2 separate regions of the Homo sapiens genome follow, and region 1 is linked to region 2. Evidence: fine-mapped expression QTL. Tissue or cell type: pancreas. Region 2 holds a variant in brackets; the other region holds the start of a gene. All regions are shown on one strand. Distances are between the middles of the regions.

Region 1 (9,830 bases), 56 kb before region 2:
TGCAACAGAAAAGGGACTAAGAGTGCCTTTAAAAAAGAGACCCCAGAGAGCTAGCTAGTCTCTTCTGCCATGTGAGGTTACAGTAAAGATGGCTGTCTATGAGGAAGCAAGCCCTCACCTGACCCCAAATCTGTGGAACCTTGTTCTTGCACTTTCCAGGCTTCAGACTGTGATAAACACATTTCTGTTGTTTATAAGCTACTCACTTCATGCAATTTTGTTATGGCAGCCTGAACACACTGAGAGACCTATTTTCTCCAGAGACACTACAACCACTTTAAACCTAAAGAGCAAGAATGGGGAGCCACTAGAATAAAGCTACATTCCAGTATCACTGCTGGGATGTAGAGATGATGGTGGAAAAAGACTTGACAGAGCCCACTGAGGAAGGCAGCCCCACCTCTAATCTCACCCTGGGACTTTAAGACATGAATGAGTTGAGGGCAGATAGGTGACTTGAATTAAATTCCAGGTGACGGTTTTACAGTTGTTGGCACCAGCAGATGGGGATCAGAGGGCCCACGTGTGGAGAGAAGGGTAGAGGGTGGGGGTCTAGGCTAGTTGTATGTTGATAGGGGCCATCGATGGTAGACTCTGGATGAGGCAGAATAGGCGGGAAGAAGGGGGAATGGCACCAGGAAGCATCAGGTTGGCCCCCAAGAGTTGGACCTGCCGTCTCTGAGAGACTGGCTGGCAATAGGTCCTGCTGCAGTGGAGCAGTGGGTCCAGAGGAGGTTATTTTTGCTTTTAATATGAAGGTGGGTCCTTAATCATCAGAACAGGAACTGAGAATGATGGTTAGTGTTTCTGAAAGAAAAAAGAGCCATGGGGGAATGGAATCAACCCTTTTTCACAATTTGTTAGGCAGTTTCACAAATTAACTTATTTGAAACTAGCCTCCACTCTAGATAAGGAAGCCAAGGATCAGAGAAATCACATAATTTGTCCAAGTCACATCCCTGGTATGCAGGCAGAGTAGGGATTTGAACTCAACTGTCTCTGTCTTCAGAGAGTGTGCTTTTTCCAGATCTTGCCTGGAAGACATGATGTTCCTCCTTTCCCTTTGTATCTAGCCCCTACTTTACTCCTCAGCCACTCTCTCGTTTCTTCTGCTTCATGCAATTCATTCTCCTGCCATCTTTTCTTCTTCTTTAACTTGCCATAATTTGCAATAGATATATTTATTAAACAAAATCAATTTTTAAAGTAGACTGGTTGAAAATGTTATAATTTTCTAAAAAACAAGATTCCAATTCCTCTAAAACTAAAGAAGAGTTGTTTTGTACTTATTTATAAAAAGCCTGTAACTCATTTTCTTTTCTTTATGTGTCATTATAATCAAGGGAAACAGTAGGGCCATGAATATATGATCAAAATATTAGAGTTGAGAGATGTAGAAACTGAAACACAAAGAAGCTCAGCGACTTATTTAGAATAAATTGGCTAGTTCCTGAATGATCCAAATAATTGAGAGAAATAGGGAAAATCCTGAGTTAACAAATAAATACAGTTTCAAAAGTGTGTTTGTAAATTAGTTCTCTGGCATTTGGTATATTTCTCTAATAAAAAGAAAATTGATGTGACCTGAGTGTCTCATAGAAAACAGCTGAAACTCATTATTTATATCTAAGAATAGTATAAAAAACTCCCCACAATTATTATGTAGTACTTATAATGAACACAACACAAAGACAATACACTGAGAAAGAAGGACTTTAATTTTTAAATGTGTAAGAAGAGAAAATTTAATTAGAAAGATGAAAGACTTAACTGGCGAATCCGGCAGAGATTCTAAAGATGACATTTGGACACTGATAAAGGCCATTGGGGGATGAATGACAGACACTTGTTTTTAAGAGTGTGAAAGCTGTCCTTATCAAAATGGAGTCAATTGTGTTAAAAAACGAGACAAATCCCTGACAAATGGCTGGGGAAGGCCATGAAGGGAGGGTTCTAATACATAAATGCCTGATAACAAGAACTATTGAAAAATACTGCAAAAACCACAACTTTGGACAAAGGCCATTGCAACCACACACACACACACACACACACACACACACACACACAGAGAGAGAGAGAGAGAGAGAGAGAGAGAGAGAGAAAATGAGAACTTCTGCGGAGACATCTGCCCAGCAACTGCCTGTACAACATTAGACTGGTGCCACTCTAGTTATTGATTACTGTAGCCAAGGATAATTATCTCAAAAACAATGATGTAATCTTCCTTCTTCCTTGAAAAACCTTTGCCTTCCTTTACCTCCCTGAATACGCAAAATAGTTTAATATGGCACACATATTCCCATTGCAATGCCCATTCCCAAATAAACATCATTTTCTTTTAGAAAGTCTCCCTCTCTGTTTGTTATTAGGCTGACAAGAGGTAGTGAAAGAGATTTCCTGAGTGCCTATCATTTATATCACTCAGTAGTTAAGAACATCAGTTGTTCAAAATCCATCAATTAAATACACAATTCAAAGCAGAATCTTTATGTGGCAATCTCTCTTTATTCTAAATAAGTCGCTGAGCTTCTTTGTGTTTTAGTTTCTACATCTCTCAACTCTAATATTGTACCTTCCACTCCAGCCATTTTAGACAGTTCAAATCACACAGACACAAAGAGATACTTTCCTTCTCTTGGTTTTGCAGTTCACTTAACCAGACCACCCTTTCTCCCCTTCATAGTTTGATAAAATATCCTCTCTCAAAAGCCTAATCCAAATGCTATGTCAACCATCTGACAAAATATTAGCTCCTTCCTCTGAAACTAATTGCATTTTGATTGCATTCTAGGCATTTCTTTCCTGATTTATAGTCTCTCATTGTAGTGTTCATATACATGCTTTATCTATAATATTAAGGTGCAAACTCTTAGGTATGGCCTTTCCACAGGTGCTCAGTGTATAGTTGTCAAATACAATTAAATTGTATCAATTTAGGTTTCTGTTCAAGGCTTCTCAGAAATGGCTTCATATCACCTTTGCAAAATAAGTGTTCCCTTCATTTCCATTCCCTAGCCTTTATTTTCTTTATACCACGCATCACACAGGACATATTAGATACTTGTTTATTGTTTGTTTCCTCCACCAGAATGTATGACCTATGAGGGCAAGGCCTTTGTTTCACTTGCCGTGTTTACCCCAGCACCTAGATCTGTGCCTGGTCCAGAGTAGGAGTTGAATAAACTGATATTACTGGAAGTGAAAGAAATGCTACCTGGAGTATTTCAAGACTCTGAGTCCAATAACTCATCGATTTTGTCAGTATTTAGCTGCAGGACATAGAGCAAGTCACTAACCCATGATGAGTCTCATGTCCCTGTAAAATCAATGATTGTTAAATACAGGATCTCTGAGGTCCTGTTTAACTCCATTAATGTGAGAGTAGAAAGTGAGAGAAGCAAACTGAGTTCAAGTGGATATGGGTGAGAAAAAAGAATGCTCTAGGCAAGACTACAGGTCCTGCTTTTGGTGCAGGGCAGAGAGAAAGTAGAAAAGCTGGAGCAACGGAGACAGATGCTCAGAAAAGGGCTGCCTTCAGATATATTAATACCTGTAAAGAAAACCCGGGGGAGGTGCTGACTTGGGGAGAGCCTGAGGCTGAGTAGACAGCTGGGCTGGTGGAGAGGAGGCTCCCAGAGGAAAGGCAACCCGCCAGTGGGGTGGGGGTGATGGGGTTGGCAAGCTCCACAAATTTTGCAATTTTGCCTCCTTTCCCAGAGAACAACCACTCTGTTGTGACTTTGTCAGGGCTGGAATAGGCATGTGGTTCACACGTGAAAGCGAATGAGAAGTTCTATACAAAGAACCACATTTGCTGTCCATTTAATTTATTCTTCCTCATTCTCAAAGAAGACTAGATCCTCATCTCTTACCCTTAACCTCCACGTTGAGAAGCACTTTGCCCTTCCCATTCTAGCATATGTCTAGAACACTGCATCTAGTGTCGCAAACTTGTCCTCTTGCCCCCTCTGCCCTGGCACCTTCCCTCCCCACACCAGTAAGTCTGAGAAGGTCCCTGTGTCTTCTACTTTTCCTTTTCCAGCATATGGAGACAAAAGTGATTATATCCCGGATGCTAATCCGCCATGTTGACCTTTAATAACCCCAGTCCCATGAATACCTCCTGATTCCTAGGATTTTTTTTTTAAACTGTCCTTAGCATAAGAACATGTCAACCTTGATGCTATTGCCCACATTGTAGGCTATGAAGCATACGGCATTCTCACCTGTTCCGGAGGGCTGCCTTTAATTGTCTTGCACAGAGCAGTATACTCTTTCCTTACGGTATATAAGGCCAGGGTCTGGGGAGTAACAGTGCAGAAATTTATCTGCTTGCCGCCGCCCAAGGCCACGCTTCTGTCTACCACATCCTCCAATAGCACCCCTATTACCTACAGACTGGATTTGTCTGTCTCGTTCTTTGGTTTCTTGACTCCTTCGCGTTTGGGGGCTGCTTTGCATATAAAGCCCTTTCACAGAACACAGCACCATGCTAGTACAATACGCTGTAGATTCTCCCTCCCTCCCCCTCTCTCTCATATACTCATATATTTTATGTTGAACCAATATGAGGCATTGCTCAAATTTAAGTCATATTAAAGTTCTAGGCTAGTTTTGAAAACAGAAACTGATTGGAAGCAGAGGTTTTCAAATAGCCCACATACGCTACTAGAAGGCTGTACATTTAAGAGAGGGCCATCTAGGAAGCAATAATAGGCATTAAAACAACAACAAAACAACAAAACAAAACAGAAACAAAAACAACTTGGGAAACGGCCCTCCTTTCACGTTTTTTCTATCCCATCGACAAAGGCGCGCTGTCCTTAGCTGCGATGATTTTGTCTCGCCTCCAAAAAGACGCCCACGCACTATGTTGAGCACCCAAGTGAGGCTACGGTTCCTGCGGTCACAGAGGGCAGGGAGGCTCAAGCACCTCCAAAACCCCGAGCCCTGGACAGCTCCCCAGGCCCTTCCCGCGGCGCGAGGACAAGAGGTCTCCGGGGCCCTCGGGGGAGCGGCGCCTCCTCCTGGTTCCAGCAGCTCTGCGGCCGCTCCCCACCCAGGCCCGCGAGACCAGCGGGACAGTCCGCGCCGCGGGAGACCAACTGGGACGAGCCGCGACCCACGCAGGCGCGCTGAGGCCGGGGCAGGGGCGGGCCCGGCTGGCGCGGCCGGCCTGCGGTTGGGGCCCTGGCGGGGGTGGGACGGGCCAAGCCGGGCAGGGCCGGGGTGGGGCCGCTGGCGTTTCCGTTGCTTGGATCAGTCTAGGTGCAGCTGCCGGATCCTTCAGCGTCTGCATCTCGGCGTCGCCCCGCGTACCGTCGCCCGGCTCTCCGCCGCTCTCCCGGGGTTTCGGGGCACTTGGGTCCCACAGTCTGGGTGAGTGGTCGCAGCCCGGGGAGGGGGCTCCTTCTGGAGAGGAGAGCGTGGTCGCGGGGCACTGGATTCGCGCGGACGCTCGGCCGAGAGCTGTCCCGGTAGCTGCGAGAGGGCGGGTCGGCCCCGTGGCGGGGCCCTCCGGGCTGTCTGAGCGCCGCCGGGTCCCCGCGGACCTGCGCTTGGGGAGGGCACGAGTTGCAAATGGCGCGCTAAGCCCGAGGTTTCTTCTCTTTTGCAGTCCTGCTTCACCTTCCCCTGACCTGAGTAGTCGCCATGGCACAGGTAAGGCCGTGCGCCCCCCACTGCGCTGGATTTACCCACAACTTTGTATGCTGCGACGAGGGACTTTTAGGATTTGTCTGAGAGCCAAAAAGTTTAGGAGGAAAGGGAACCTGCTTTGGGGACATCGCTTCCACTTTTCTTGTTCCCCCTTTGCTTCCCTGCCCCCGTTTCTGTGTCCCGGTTCTTCCCGCTGAGCGCCCTCCGGAACCAGCACCGACGCCGCCAAGCTGCCTTCGCGCGCAACAGCTGGTGACGTGGCCGGATTTGTGTGCGCTCCCTTTTCATGAGTGAATGTGTAAAAGTGGGCCTTCCCCAAAATCCAGAGAGTAGCTCAAATTAGAACCGGAGCAAGAACAGCTCATCGTGGTCATGTGAGGCGAACGCATTCCCCCCCCACCCCGCCCCCCGACTTCCTTTATTTTTTTTCCGCAAAGTTTTCTGTATTTTAATACTGTGATTGAGCATTGGCTTTTTCCAGTTGCTCAGCCCAGTTTTACTAAAACTGTAGGACGTAGGCTCTGATTTTTTTTTTAATCCAAAAGATTAAACACAAGCGCTGTTTTTCTTAAGCAATGAACTCGTGGAACGAGTTCTCAATTGAATTTGCCTTGGGACTGTTTCAGAAATTGATAATCTACTACAGGCTTTCTTTACTGTTTTTTTTTTTTCCTTTTTTTTTGAGACGGAGTCTCACTCTGTCGCCCAGGCTGGAGTCCAGTGACGTAGTGATCTCGCTCACTACAACCTCTGCCTCCCGGGTTCAAGCAATTCTCGTGTCTCAGCTTTCCAAGTAGCTGGGATTACAGGCGCCCCACCATGCCCAGCTAATTTTGTATTTTTAGTAGAGGCGGGGTTTCACCATGTTGGCCAGGCTGGTCTCAAACTCCTTGCCTCAAGTGATCCTCCCGCCTCGGCCTCAGGACTGTAATCCCACTGCGCCTGGTTTCTTTACTGTTATTAATGTTTATCAAAAATGTAGGAAAGAGAAGATAGTTTAAGGTCTTTAAATATTGACCATGTTATACAGTCTTTTGTGAATAAGATACCAGGGCTTAAAAACTCTAAAACTGATTTCACAGATCTTGTCAATCTAACCGGCTTGTCAGAGTCCAGATAGTTTTTTTTAAACAAGTGTTTTAACTGCTAAAACAATGCTGTCTCTTATTTATAGTTCACTTTTTATCAGATTGACTTATCAAAATTGAAAAAGGTTTCTTGGTCCTTTCCAAGTGAAAATGGGAGGATTAAGATTAGTTGATTACTTTATGAAACTTACACAGTGATCCCATTCTTACCTCCTCTTTTGCACTTAAATGTTACAGTAAACCAATTCTCATATTACTTCAAGTGGAAAGTTTGGTTTAAGTTCTTCTCCATAGAAAGGATACTTTTATGTGGAATTAACTTTCCTGAGTAATATTTTTCCTATCTTGATATGCTGGTGTGGTGATGTACATGAAGATTTAACAAGCATCGAATAATAATTCCCTCTATCTTTGCTCATTTAGCAGTTTCTTGAATCTCTTGTAAGTTCCCCAGTGATGTCTGAGGGTCCATCAATTCCTTTTCATTATGTAGACTGTTTACCCAAATAGTATAAGCGAACATATTTTCCAGTTGTGGACATTAATTTTAATAATTTCAAAGAATGATTAGTATCATAAAGGCCATGTGTATAGAAAACCTAGGAGAATGGTGGTTTGCATATAAAATTATGTACCTGAGCCCTATGACAATATAACACCAAGACTGTTTTCTATCAAAACTACAGTTTTTACTAATCATAAAAGTTACAAGTAATGTTTTAAAAAAGATACAGAGTGTTAAATTTTGTTCTAGTTTTGTTACTATTTTTGGAAATCATGAAAGTAAAACATTTTGTTAAAATATTTAGTATTGGCCAGGCATGGTGGCTCATGCCTGTAATCCTAGCACTTTGGGAGGCTGAGGCACGTGGATCACGAGGTCAGGAGTTCGAGACCAGCCTAACCAACATGGTGAGACCTCGTCTCTTCTAAAAATACAAAAATTAGCTGGGCATGGTGGTGCACAACTGTAATCCCAGCTACTCGGGAGGCTGAGGCAGGAGAATCACTTGAACCCGGGAGGCGGAGGTTGCAGTGAGCTGAGATCGCGCTGCTGCACTCCAGCCTGGGCAACAGTGAGACTACGTCTCAAAAAAAAAGTTTAGTATTAAAGTTGGGTGCGGCGTCTGAGCAGTAAGAATGTCATGAAGGCAAAACTAGGCTACGTAATTGTTCATTAGAAGCTTCATGAACATCAGAATTTTTTTGTTTATTTTTTATTTATTTTTTATTATATATATATTTTTATTATACTTTAAGTTCTAGGGTATGTGTGCACAACATGCAGGTTTGTTACATATGTATACATGGTGCCATGTTGGTGTGCTGCACCCATTAACTCAATATTTACATTAGCTGTATCTCCTAATGCTATCCCTCCCCCCTCCCCCCCGCCCACAATAGGCCCCGGTGTGGGTGTGTGATGTTCCCCTTTCTGTGTCCAAGTGTTCTCATGAACATCAGAATTATCTCTATGGTATATGTTTAAGTTACAAGGTTTGATCAGAAATATTTTCGGTTGGTTTAAAATTATTATAATAATTTAAAAAAGCCCTGTGCCGAGCAAGCAGGATAAATGTAAATAAATAAATTTGAGATGAAACTCCTTCCAGAGGAGCTGACTGGATATTGATTGCATCTTTTCATGCCATTCATTTTTTAAAGTCAAGTCTCTCTGGAGCTAATGTTCACTTTTGGGATCTTAGATCAGGGTTACCTGTTTACCCGTGGCCTGTGCTGCTCCTGGTGATTTCTCTTGGTTCCTTATCTGTTTAACTCTTAAGTTCATTTTGGCTGCTGAGAAAGAACTAGATCAAAAACTACTTGGCTGCTTTGCAAGCCACTGAGCAATTCATTGGCATTCAGCAAACCCTGATTTCCTTATCTAATATCCAGTTCTCCTTGGAAGGCCTACATAGGTGATCAGGCTAGTTACAGGCAGGCAGTCCGGCTTTCTTCTTTTAATGACTTAGAAGTTCAAAATGGTAAAAATATAACAGTGCTTTTACAGCATAGATTCATTCCTGAAATACATTTTATTCATATAACCTTCATACTATTCTAAAATTTCACAAATGCATCTGTTTTTTAAAAATTAGGGCTCCTAAGACCTTTGCTTTAAGTGCTTCTTAGACGCAGTCTTTCAGTTTAGTTAGTTTACATAATATGTAAACATATCATCAATTGATTAATTGCAAGGAATTATACTCCTGGCTTCATTTCTTTGGACACTAGTTTTTTGGGTTTTTTTTTTTCTCCCCCGAGATGGAGTCTCGCTTTGTTGTCCAGGCTGGAGTGCCGTGGCGTGATCTCAGCTCACTGCAACCTCTGCTTCCTGGGTTCAACTGATTCTCTTCCCTCAGCCTCCGGAGTAGCTGGGATTAGAGGCATGTGCCACCACGCCTGGCTAATTTTTGTATTTTTAGTAGAGACGGAGTTTCGCCATGTTGGCCAGGCTAGTCTCGAACTCCTAACCTCAAGTGATCCGTGTGCCTCGGCCTCCCAAAGTGCTGGGATTACAGGCATGAGCCACTGCGCCTGGTGGGACACTAGTTCTTAACTGTTCTCTTTTTCATCCATGCATGCATTCATGAATGCATGAGGCTTTTGCATTTTCACTATGTGCCAAGTATTGTTAAACATGAGCGCAATGGGAAATGGATCTAAGATTTATTGATATAATAGATGCATTGCCAAGTCTTTTGTGTGCATTATTTAGTCCTCATAACACAGTTTTGGAAATAGGTATTACTATTTTTGTTTCACAGAAGGGGAAATTGAGGTTACTTAGCTGGCATTCTTTGTATGGGACAAAGGAGGGAAGCCATCATACAGAGAGGTAACAACAGCAAATAAATACTTAGGGGTGTAAAAGAGTTTGGCATGATGGAGTGAAACTGCAGTGAGGTGGGGAAATCAAGCCTTGTCTTGGAAGGGATAGAACTTTTCAAGTGTTATTCATGGAATGCCCAATGGAACAATTTGGTAAAAGAGCATACTCTCCTCTGACCTTCAATGTGAACTCATGGGAGGCCAATGCCACCTGCTCACTTTAACTCACTCAAGACATCACTGGAGTTA
Region 2 (10,964 bases):
AACATGGAATTTTCTGCTACTCAAGCAGGTGTGGGGTGAGAGCATCAGTGTTTGGAGTACTAATGTAAAGGTGACCTCATTTGTTCATGCAGCCTGGTAAAACCTGGAACACACAGTTCCACAATCTACTGGTTTATAGTCTTTGGTAGCAAGTAGCAGAAATAAACTCAGGTACTTTGTATAAAAAAGAAATTGATCGTGAGTATATTGGATATATCACTTGGTTTTATTTAACCCCAAAGTAAACAAAAACACAATTACATCTGGCTTAAATAATATGGACCTTCATTATCTCAAGTAACAAGAAGCCCAGAGGTCCCAGAGTTGGCTAATTCAGTAGCTCAATCAGAGACTCAGGTACCTTTTGTCTAGCTGTTCTCTCTAACCACAGCCTGTTGGCGAGTCTCTCCTTGTGGCTTTAAGATGCCTCTAGGTGTTCCAGGAATCATGTGCAGATATGACGATATCCAGATAAGGGGGGAAGGGGATGATAAAAAGCTTGGGTGATACAAAGTTGACTTTATCCCAAGCTCTGTAGCGTACCTGTGCATAAACCAATCAGTGGTAAGGAGAATGAGACTCTTCATACCTGGCTTTAACTTCACTGCCTTGGGTCTGGGAAGGGGCCCAGTGACTCCTAGACAAATGACCAATTAGGGCTTCTGTTATCAAGGAAGAGGTAGGGAAGAAAATGACTGTTGGATGAACAACCAACACTGATTCATCTCAAAGAATTAGGGGAAATAACAACTAAATCTTGAGTATGATGGAAAACAGCTGAGTATATTTTGGGAACTTAGCAGCAGGAATACATGAATTTTTCATCCCTTATGTGTTGCCATTACTATAACTCCATTCCAACAATTCCCTGTCTCTGTCTTTCAGTTCAAAATTTCAAATATTGGAAATGACAGTATTTGAGTGGTCCAGCTTGTGTTAGCTGACCATTCCTGCATCAATAAGCTATAGCTGTGCAGTAAAGTTACTAAGAACAGTCATGGCTGTTGGATACCCACCTCCATAGGTAGCCATCAAAGAGGTGTTTACTGTATTCACCTTCCTGATTATCTGGTGAAGAGGAAGGTGAGAAGGGTATCCATTTCATGTTTTAATAATTATCTTATTTTTGTTTAGACTTCATTATCCCCATATTCTGGTAATTTCATCTTTGACACTGTATTTGACACAAAGAAAGTGTCCTTGACACAAAGAAAGAAACTTGTTTAAGGTAGGTAAACTAGTTTAACTATCTTAAAAGAAACTAATAGTAACCATGAGTTCTGACCAATACACATCTTGTGTTTCATTCTGTCAATGCATAAGAAAATAAAGTATGAAATAGTTGTGATACCAAACATATGGATGAAAGTCCTAGTAAGAAGCACCACCATACCTGGATAATTTTGGTATTTTTAGTAGATACAGGGTTTCACCATGTTGCCCAGGCTGGTCTCAAACTCCTGGCCTTAAGTGATCTGCCGGCTTCGGCCTCCCAAAGTGCTGGGATTACAGGCATGAGCCACTGCACCCCGCCTAAGAAAGCAGTTTAATTCTTCCACTGCTAACTCTATTAAGGAAATAGCACCATACACTTTAGCCAATGCAAATGTAATTGGGGCGGGGGGAGAGAATAGAAGAGAGATGAAGAGACAGAGATAGAGAGAAAGCGAGAGAAATATTGGAGAGAGAAAATTTGGGTAGTTAGTATAACATTGCACTTCAGATTTCTTTACCTGTAGTGAGAGAGGGTGGAGACATCCATTCCCTCTTGCTTCTCATAGCCTGAGCATCCCACCACAAAGTGTCGGATTCTAATAATGTTTAATGATAATACACTTTTCATGAAACATGGTGTCATGTGAATAAATAGCAATTTGTTGCAAAGCTCAGAAAAATAGGCATCTTGAAAGAGAGAACTTTATCAAATCTTGACATTAAGAACTCTAATAAATACTAAGCTGAATAAAAAAGCATTAGGTAAGAGGTTGGAAAGGCTTTTGGTTGTAAAATTGAACCAAAAAGGTGACCCAATTACAAAAGTTTTTACTTTCAGATTTTCTGCTGAAGAGAGGTACAAAGGAATTGAAAGCCAACTAAGGTGGGCATAAACATCGAAAAATCTGCTTCAACTTCAAATGTGCAAACTGCTGGAGAAGCTACAACATTATATTTTGCATGCTTATTCTTTAAAATATACTCGACATTGCTGTATAGATTATACATTTATCCATAACATTGTATAATTCAGAGTTACCCATCTAGAGCAAATATATCCTTTATCTTATGCAATCATGATTTAAGAGATTTTCACTGTGATTCTTGTGACTTTTCCACAGTTGTTGATTCTGCAAAGCCCTCAGATAAATCACAACTTAACCGTGTGTATGTATAAAGGTAGTTCTCCCCATGACTTCGTTATGTAAGAATCAGCTATAGCTCCTTTCTGACTTTAAAGACAGCAAGAACTTTTGAGCATATAATTTTCAGTTGGCTATAAAAATAATTTTTAAAAATTGTGAAAGTAATAGGATAATATTTTAGAAAATTGAGGATATAGAGAAAGAAAAAAATACCACTCTAATAAGTAATGTTTTACCATTTTCAAAATAGTTCTTCCTGTTGTTTGTTGGAGCCTCTGAAGGGACTCCATGTACAGAAACACCCCTCCCCACTTGGTTCTGATCAAGTTAATAAACTAAAACAAAAAATAAGGCAGAGGAGGTCCAAAAATTATCTTTACTGTTGGGATAAGGGCTCTTGGTCTGCCATATGGGTTGCTAATATTGAATATTGATTGAACATTGAATATTGCTAACATTGAGTGTGCCAGCAATACTAGCACAGTAGGCCTCTCTTTGAAGGGTCAGACTCCTGGAATATCAGAGGAACATGAGTTCCCTGAAGCCAGGACAATCCTAAGGGTGAATTGAGTCAAACACCCTCAGTTATTCTTTCCAAATTTAGCAATCAGTTAACCCAACTGACTCCACCTTTCTAGGGCCAGTGTAAATAAAGGGAAGAGGGGAGGTTAAGAGGAGAGCTTAGAAGAAAATCCTTTCCACAGAAAATGGAAATGGGAAAAGGTGTTTTGTTTTTATGAGTTTTTAAAAAACAAACAGAAGAACATATTTCTACACTCATATAAAGAGAACAAAGCAAGAGTTTCAATGGAGTCACGATTGTTGTCATATGAAGACAAGTGTGTAAAAAAAAGAGTTCACACAGCAGGTTTGGGACTGCTAGTCTTAGAAATGCCTGCTTGAAAGATTGGCCTTTGGATGGCATCTGGAAATTCGGGTTTCGAGAGGGTTTTCATCATGACCAGAACTGATAAGAGAAGCTCACTGTGCGTAAATTGTTCAAACAATATGAATTATGTGGAACTCTTGCTTTCCTTCTGGGAGTTCGGAATTTTGATATATGTTAAGCAGAGAGTGCCTACACAACCGGCCCCCAATAAAAATCTTGAGAAGTGAATCTCTAACGATCTTCCTTTAACTTATTGCTGGGATAATAAGTGTGTCCCATAGGAATCCACTGGAAGAGGGCTCTTGGAAGCTTGTGTGTGGCCTCCTCTGGACTTTGCCCCATGGGACTTTTCCTCTGCTGATTTTGCTTTAGGCCCTTTTGCTGTAATAGCTCTTCACTGTGACTTTATACGAGGACCTTTGAGGCTTCCTAGAGTATCACTGAACTGGGAGGTGTTCTTTGAGCCCTCCAAAACAACATGGATAGTGTGGTTTCTATTGTTCCTTCAGTTCCCAGTGTTAAATCAAGTTTAGCCTAAAGCTGCCTCCTTACGTATGTTAAGTTCGGCCTAAAGGTTTTTCTGTACACTGTGAACTATAACCTAAATGGAACTGTAAACAGACCAGGCTCACCTGGTCAGTATTGTACCATAGTTGGACCTGCATCTACTGCAGCTCCTGCTTTATTCTCCTTCAGCCTCCCCAACTCCTGGACCAGACGTGTATTTCACTTTATGATGAAAAAACACTGGTCTTCCCTGCAGGACACACCCATCATCAAAGTTGGAGACTTGGAAGTGGTGAGAAATAAGGGAAGGTTCCAATCCATCTTTCATGAGTTTCAGCTCAGCCTCAGAGGTATTGGAAGAGGCAATCCACCATGCGCTGTGAGCATGCCTTTGTGTTCTTGTTGAATGTGCCAAGAATTTAAGCCTCCTTTTATTTGGTCATTTCTCAAGGTTGTGTTTATAGCAAGAATGCTGAAGATGACGTATCTCCCACTGTGACAAAGAACAAACTACTTACTGCTTATTACAGAAGTAATGGATTCTCCAAACTCAGTGTTTCTCAGCTGTGATACAGATATGCTGCATGTGCAGTATCCATCTGAGATTTTCTGTAAAGCCCCTGTGGGACTTGGGGAGCAAAGGGGACTATGACAAGCATGATGTTCATGCCATTTGCTGTATTGTGAGTAACAAAGTACTTCATCTGTGATCCAGGTGTCTTATGTCTTCTGCCAACATTCATAAAACAATAGAAGGTGAATCTTTCAGCTTGCAAGTAGGGGAATATCCTAGCCTGACAGCAGGTTCCTGTTTGCCCTTGCTCTTTCCTCTTTGTGTCCATCTTTCTTTCCCAACTGCCCCACCCTGTGGACTTAAGGCACTAGATACAGAGACAAAGGAGTCACATAGATTGTTTAACTAGATCCTACAACTGGGTAGGGAAAAATTCCCATAGTAAATGCATTTTATGTATATTTCCTAGTGGATTTGCTTCTCTGACCAAACCGTGACTATTATAGCTCCCCTCACAACCAACCTAATCCATTTTCTGAGATTCCATATTGTTGCAAGTTCTGTATAAACATCATCTTTAATGGCAGAAGAATATTTCATATTGAGTAGATTAGACATACTTTATTTATTTAAACTTTTGACACAAAAATATTTGTTCAGTCTAATTAATCCAAGAGGAAAAGAGATTTGTGAAATAGAATTAAACTTTGAAAATAATCTTCCCTTTATGCAGTACTGATTTTATGTTAAGTATTGGAGGAGGCCGGGCACGGTGGCTCACGCCTCTAATTCCAGCGCTTTAGGAGGCCGAGGCAGGTGGATCACCTGAGGTCAAGAGTTCAAGACCAGCCTGGCGAACATGGTGAAACCCCGTCTCTACTAAAAACATAAAAAAATTAGCTGGGCGTGGTAGTGGGCGCCTGTAATCCCAGCTACTCAGGAAGCTGAGGCAGAATTGCTTGAACCCAGGAGATGGAGGCTGCAGTGAGCCAACCTGATCCCACTACACTCCAGCCTGGGTGACAGAGTGAGACTCCGTCTCAAAAACAAAAACAAAAACAAACAAACAAAAGTATTGGAACACTCTGTAATGTACTATTCTGGTATTTCAATTTCACTTACTTAGGTCTGAAGTACTGGCAAAGCAAGCTTGGGAGAGAGAAAGAATATTGAGTTAAAATATCCAAGGCCTTAGAACCAACATCTTTTTGAAAGGAGAAAGGACCCTAAAATGAAGGGGCAATGAAGCCAAGTTCAGTTAAGTCCTTTAATAACATCCATTACCATTTTCATGTGTTTACTTGCTATAAGGGCTTACTTTAAAGTATAGTCAACACAGAAACAACCCAAGTCCTAAATGTGAGGCAATGTGAAAATGGGCATGGAGACAAATAATATCTGCATTTTTTCCACTTACAGAGCCCAAGGGATTCTGTTCATTAAGTGTGATTTTTTTTTTTTTTTTGAGACAGAGTTTCACTCTTGTTGTCCAGGCTAGAGTGCAATGGTGTGATCTCAGCTCACTGCAACCTCCACCTCCCGGGTTCAAGCAATTCTCCTGC[C/G]TCAGCCTCCCAAGTAGCTGGGATTATGGGTATTCGCCACTACACCTGGCTAATTTTTGTATTTTTAGTACAGATGGTTTCACCATGTTGGCCAGGCTGGTCTCAAACTCCTGACCTCAGGTGATCTGGCCACCTCGGCCTCTCAAAGTGTTGGGATTACCGGCATGAGCCACAGCACCTGGCAATTAAACGTGATGTTTAAAGTGGGAAAAAATCATTATTTAAATTTCTTGGCAATAAAAATGGCTATTATGTTGCTCTGCGCAATTCTGCTTTTGTGGAGGGGAAACAAAAGACCTTTTGTAAAATAATTCTTCTGGCACAGTGTCCCAACTATAAAATAATTTAATTGTTGTTCTTAAAATGCTGGACTATAACACTTGTTATTATTCTAAGAAGACCTCATATTTGAGAAGAAATTCTTGCTAAATTGGGGGTGAAGAATGTGGCTCAATAATTATTTCTGCTAGAAAAGGGACAGAACTGAAAAAATTAGACTGCAGAATGACTTAAAGAAGAGGTTACAACTATCTTATTTACTGTATTATCACTGTATCTCTAGGGGCCAACAGGGCCTGGCACAAAGGAGGTGCTTCATACTTGTTCAATGAATGAATAAAAGAGAAACTCAGGGAAAGCAGGACCATAATTTATCCACAGAAGGCAGAATCTGTTTCAGCACATATTATCCGATTAAGTTCCTGAATTTGGAGTTCAATTTCAGCAACGACTCGCCAGTCTTTTAATATATAATTTTCTAATATTAATGTTTATTACTTTGATTTATCTCATTTTTGGCCAGTGTATATTCAATGAGTATTTTTAACACAGATATTTGTGAAATGTTTTCTGAGTTCATGCATATTTGTGTCTTTTTAGTGTTTTTCTTCAGGAAAACAACTTGGTTGGTTATAAAATTTGTTTTTGTTCAAAAGCTGTAGATTTTTTTTTTTAAATTTAACATTATAAAAGTGAGGCTAATCTGTAATTTTCCCTTCTCCCTCTACCCCATTATCCTGAAAGTTTATGATTGTTTTCTTTATTATTTTAATGTTAAAAATTTACCCAGGAGTGTCTAATTATGGATTTATTTTCCCAGGAATGAAGTGAACTGTTTCATCTGTGACCCCGAAGAATCTTCAAAATTTAGATACTTCTTTATTTATAAGTTTGAATTTTGTCAGTTGTTTTGGTCTCTTCCTGAGAGAAAAATAGAATTCTTAGTTTGATTCTCTCTTCTCTGTCCTTATTGGTTTTTATTTCTTTATCATTATTCTCTGTGCTTTAAAATATGTCTCAGTTTTGTCCTCTCTCTCATGTTCTCAGGGTTTTCTAATGTTAATTCAGATCTTTTCTTTTTTCAACATGAATTACAAGTGTTATCAAGTATTTGTTTTTTCTGTAATCCTCTTATTTTGCTTCTTTCCTTTCTTGACATTTTATTTCAGGATGTTATTTCCTTAAACCCATTGTACCTCTTTCATGGAGTACATGAAGTCTGACCTCTTAGAAAAGATGCCAAGAAGATTCATCACGTTTCTTTTGCTTATACGGTTACTATTTTCAGAAGACTTCCAAGTCTTATTCCTGCTAACATAGGAAGTTCCCTCAAGGAGAAATTAAGAAAACAAATGGCAGTGCTATAAAAATTATTTCTTGATGGCACTAATCCTGCTAGCACTAAAACATGTTGGATAAATATTTGCAAAATGTTGTTTTGTGGGGGCACCATATTATTAGTCTATCTGGATGACATATACATTTAATTATAACCTGATTCTAAAAATATTTATGGTAGGAAGGAAGAACAGGGCATCTGTGGTGTTTATGTAATCATTTCTATCTATACATTGTTGAGGTCAAGTTCCAGAACTTGGGAAGAGGTCTATCTTTTGGAAAAGCTTATGTGGTCTCCCTGAGTAGGGTAGACCACAGTCATATATCAAGAATAGAGAGCTGAGCCCTCTCTGATAGCCAGAAAATTGGTGGGGGTGGGGGAAAACTGGCGGGGGCGGGGGTGGGGAAACTCTGGATATGTTTGAGACAAAGACAGATTGATGTGGAACTAGGAACTGGGCAAGCAGCAGGAGGCTGGATGTCTCTTTATTTAAGTAAGGATGATCGAAGGCTGCGAGGTCAAACACTATGAATGTAGTGATTTTTGTTAAAGTTGGATCCAGATGACTGTCAATCCCCTATAACTTCTAAGTGTCTTACGATCTTTATTATTTCTTTTTTTCTACCATGGTCCTTTTTTTTATTTGTGCAAATTATGGGGTACATGAGAAAATTTTCATATGAATATAATTCATAATGTTCAAGTCAGGGTATTTAAAGGTTCCATTGCCCTAGCACAATACATTTTTTAAGTATAGTCATCCTACTCTGCTATCAAATATTGAATTTATTCCTTATATTTTTCTGTTTGTTGGTACCCTTTAACTCACTTCTCTTCATCATCTTCCCTCCCACCTATGATCATTATTTCTTTTGACAAATATACTGTGCCCCTACTTTATGCAATGCACTCGGCAAGCACAAATTGTTTAAGACATGGTCCCTGCAATCAAGTGGTTAACGATGTAGCTGCATTTTTAGTAAAGTCTTACACTCTGAGCCATTAGTGGTATGTGGTTGAGTACCCCTGCACTAATAGGGCAGTCTGCAGAGCTTGTTATACTGGGTTACTCTGTTCCAGCATTCCCAGACTCTGATGGAATAATAAGAGATGATGATATCAATAACTTTTCATCATCTTCCCCTTTAAAACCACATTTTAAGGGTAGCATGTTTTGAAAAGTAAGAAAAAAAAAGGAAAGCAAAGCAAAATAAAAAAAAAACTCACTCAACATCATATTAATCAGAACTAACCACTATTAAAAATTTAGTGTATGACTTTTTTTGAAAAAGCCATTTACAATATTTTTCAGTGTAAATGGTTCATAAAATGTTATAGATTCAATCTGCCTCTTGTTTTTCTAAACATATGAGCCCTCAATTCTGAAGTCAATGCAATTATAACTAAGGATGAGACCAAAATTAAGGACATCAACTATTACTATCCATAGAGCACATGTACATGCGATCATTTTACGGTTCACAAATTCAGGGAATAGTTAAAAATATTATTACAAGGTTGGCTGCGGGGGGCTAATGCCTGTAATCCCAGCACTTTTTGCTTGAGGCTAGAAGTTTGAGACCAGCCTAGGCAACAAAGTAAGACCCTGGTCCCCACTGACCAAAAAAAAGAAATTTCACTGGGCGTGGAGGCACATGCCTGTAGTGCAACCTATTTAAGAGACTGAGGGCAAGAGGATTGATTGAGCCCAGGAGCTCGAGGCTGCAGTGAACTATGACCTTGCCACCGCACTCCAACCTGGGCAGCAGAGTGAGACCCTGTCTTTAAAATAAATAAATACAATTATTACATAACTAATACATGTTCATAGTAGAAAAAGTAGAAAATACGATATGAAAGAAGAGAAAAAAAGTAATCAGTGATCCCATAGATAACAGCTATTAACATTTGGTATTATATTCAATGAGTATGACCTTTTTGAATTTTTTTATCCACATGCACATGCGATTTTTATCAAAATGGAGTCCTATTTTACAAAATGTTTTATCACTTTTCTTTTTCACTATTTTATTTCCTTCCATGTCAATAAATATATTTCAACTATACATCACTTTCAACAACTGTATGTTATTTCATCATCTGGCTATATCATTTTATTATGTGCGATGTTTAAATAATTTGCAATATCTAGTTAAGAATGCTGAAAAGAATATTCTCCACATTTGCCTCTCATCTTTATTTCCTTAATAATCCAATAGGCTTTTAAAGTGATGGGATAGTCTTGTTGGACCCAGGAAGAATCTGCTTCTTTGATGGTTATATGTGAAAGTGTTATCATCCACCATGTTTTGAAAATTAGAAGCTCTTTATCAAGTGTTGTAAGAAAAGGTGACAGAATCTATACACAAGGCCAAGATACATAATTTGGCATGTGACACAATGTGGGAAGGCTTTTCCCAGACAATCATTTAATGAGTCCTTATAGAACATTAGTCAACTGAATATCTGACCTTCAGCTTGAGTCTAATTACTGTTTGGTTATCACAGTTGGATTGGCCAAATGTTATTTAGGGTTTGCAGTATTTAGGCCAGCTTCCAGATTCTGGCATAAGAGGGAAAGAAAAAGGAGCTCAGAAATTTAGTAGAGTGCAGTTCTGACTGAAGTAAGTGCATGATATATACTTTGTTCAAGAGAAGAATAAACAGCCCAACTTGGGAATAAATATCTGATTAGTTTGATAGAGCATTATTTTTCTGAGGCAGTAAATGAAAAGTACAGAAGCAGTAGCAAACAGTGTCAGATCTTAGTACTTTACCAGACAAGATCCAGTAACTCAGGTAGAAATTAGCAGACTCGAGGAAGCAGAAGCTGGATCTGGACCTCTGATGCTTGAGGTGGGGCACAGTGTGAAGCTTTGCAGTGTATGATCCATGACACATGTGACGCGACTAAGTTCACCCTAGAAGGACAAGTGTGTCTACACAGGGTTGGGTAAGAGACATAGTAAACAGGTGGTGTCACATAAAGAGAAGATGGTGTATTCCAGTAGGTGTGTGCAAGACATGGATAAGGAATCTAGAAACAAGTGGTTATTAGAAGTCAAGTAAGGTGAGTGGCAGAGCCTTCTGTTCATAATCTTGAATTGAGGGGAGAACCCTGGCACCTGGAAAGGAGAACTCACTGGAAGTAGCAAGATGAACCATCTGTCTTAGAGATATTAAGTTACTAGGGGGCTTCCTAAAAATGACAAACAAGAGAGAGTAATCAGTGATTGGAACTGGTGCTAGAAGGTACTAGGCTACATGATAAGGCTGGCTTGGTACTGAATGCGAGTCCAGCTTGCCCCAGAATGCCAAGGTCTGTCTTACACCTATGGATGGAAAGGGCAGAGCCTGCAAGTAGGAGCCAAGTGGTTCCAGCGAGGGGGAAAGGAAGTCTTCAGATTAGAGGCAGGGAGTCCAGTCTGAAAACGTGATGCACCTGCCATTAGTGATGGTACCTGTGACAGCATATGTGCCCTTGGTCTTGTCACCTGGCATTGAATGCCTGCCC

Evidence for each region. PIP is the estimated chance that this variant, and not a neighbour inherited with it, causes the effect. A credible set is the group of variants that fine-mapping cannot tell apart.
Region 1: it holds the start of ANXA5, and the variant in region 2 is the best candidate, but not a certain one, in a credible set for the expression of ANXA5 in pancreas (GTEx, PIP 0.52).

Annotation. Positions count from the first base shown.
Region 1 is chr4:121,692,415-121,702,244 of GRCh38, reverse strand. It overlaps ANXA5 (annexin A5), which reads left to right and starts at 5,265. Exons shown (of 13, transcript NM_001154.4): 1 at 5,265-5,382; 2 at 5,621-5,664. The coding sequence starts at 5,656. RefSeq lists a silencer at 4,897-5,316.
Region 2 is chr4:121,635,708-121,646,671 of GRCh38, reverse strand. It overlaps LOC105377402 (a long non-coding RNA gene), which reads left to right. Exons shown (of 3, transcript XR_939167.3): 3 at 2,054-3,477. Among named protein-coding and RNA genes, the nearest start is that of ANXA5, 56 kb to the left of the region's middle. The variant C/G (reference allele first, on the strand shown) is at 5,833.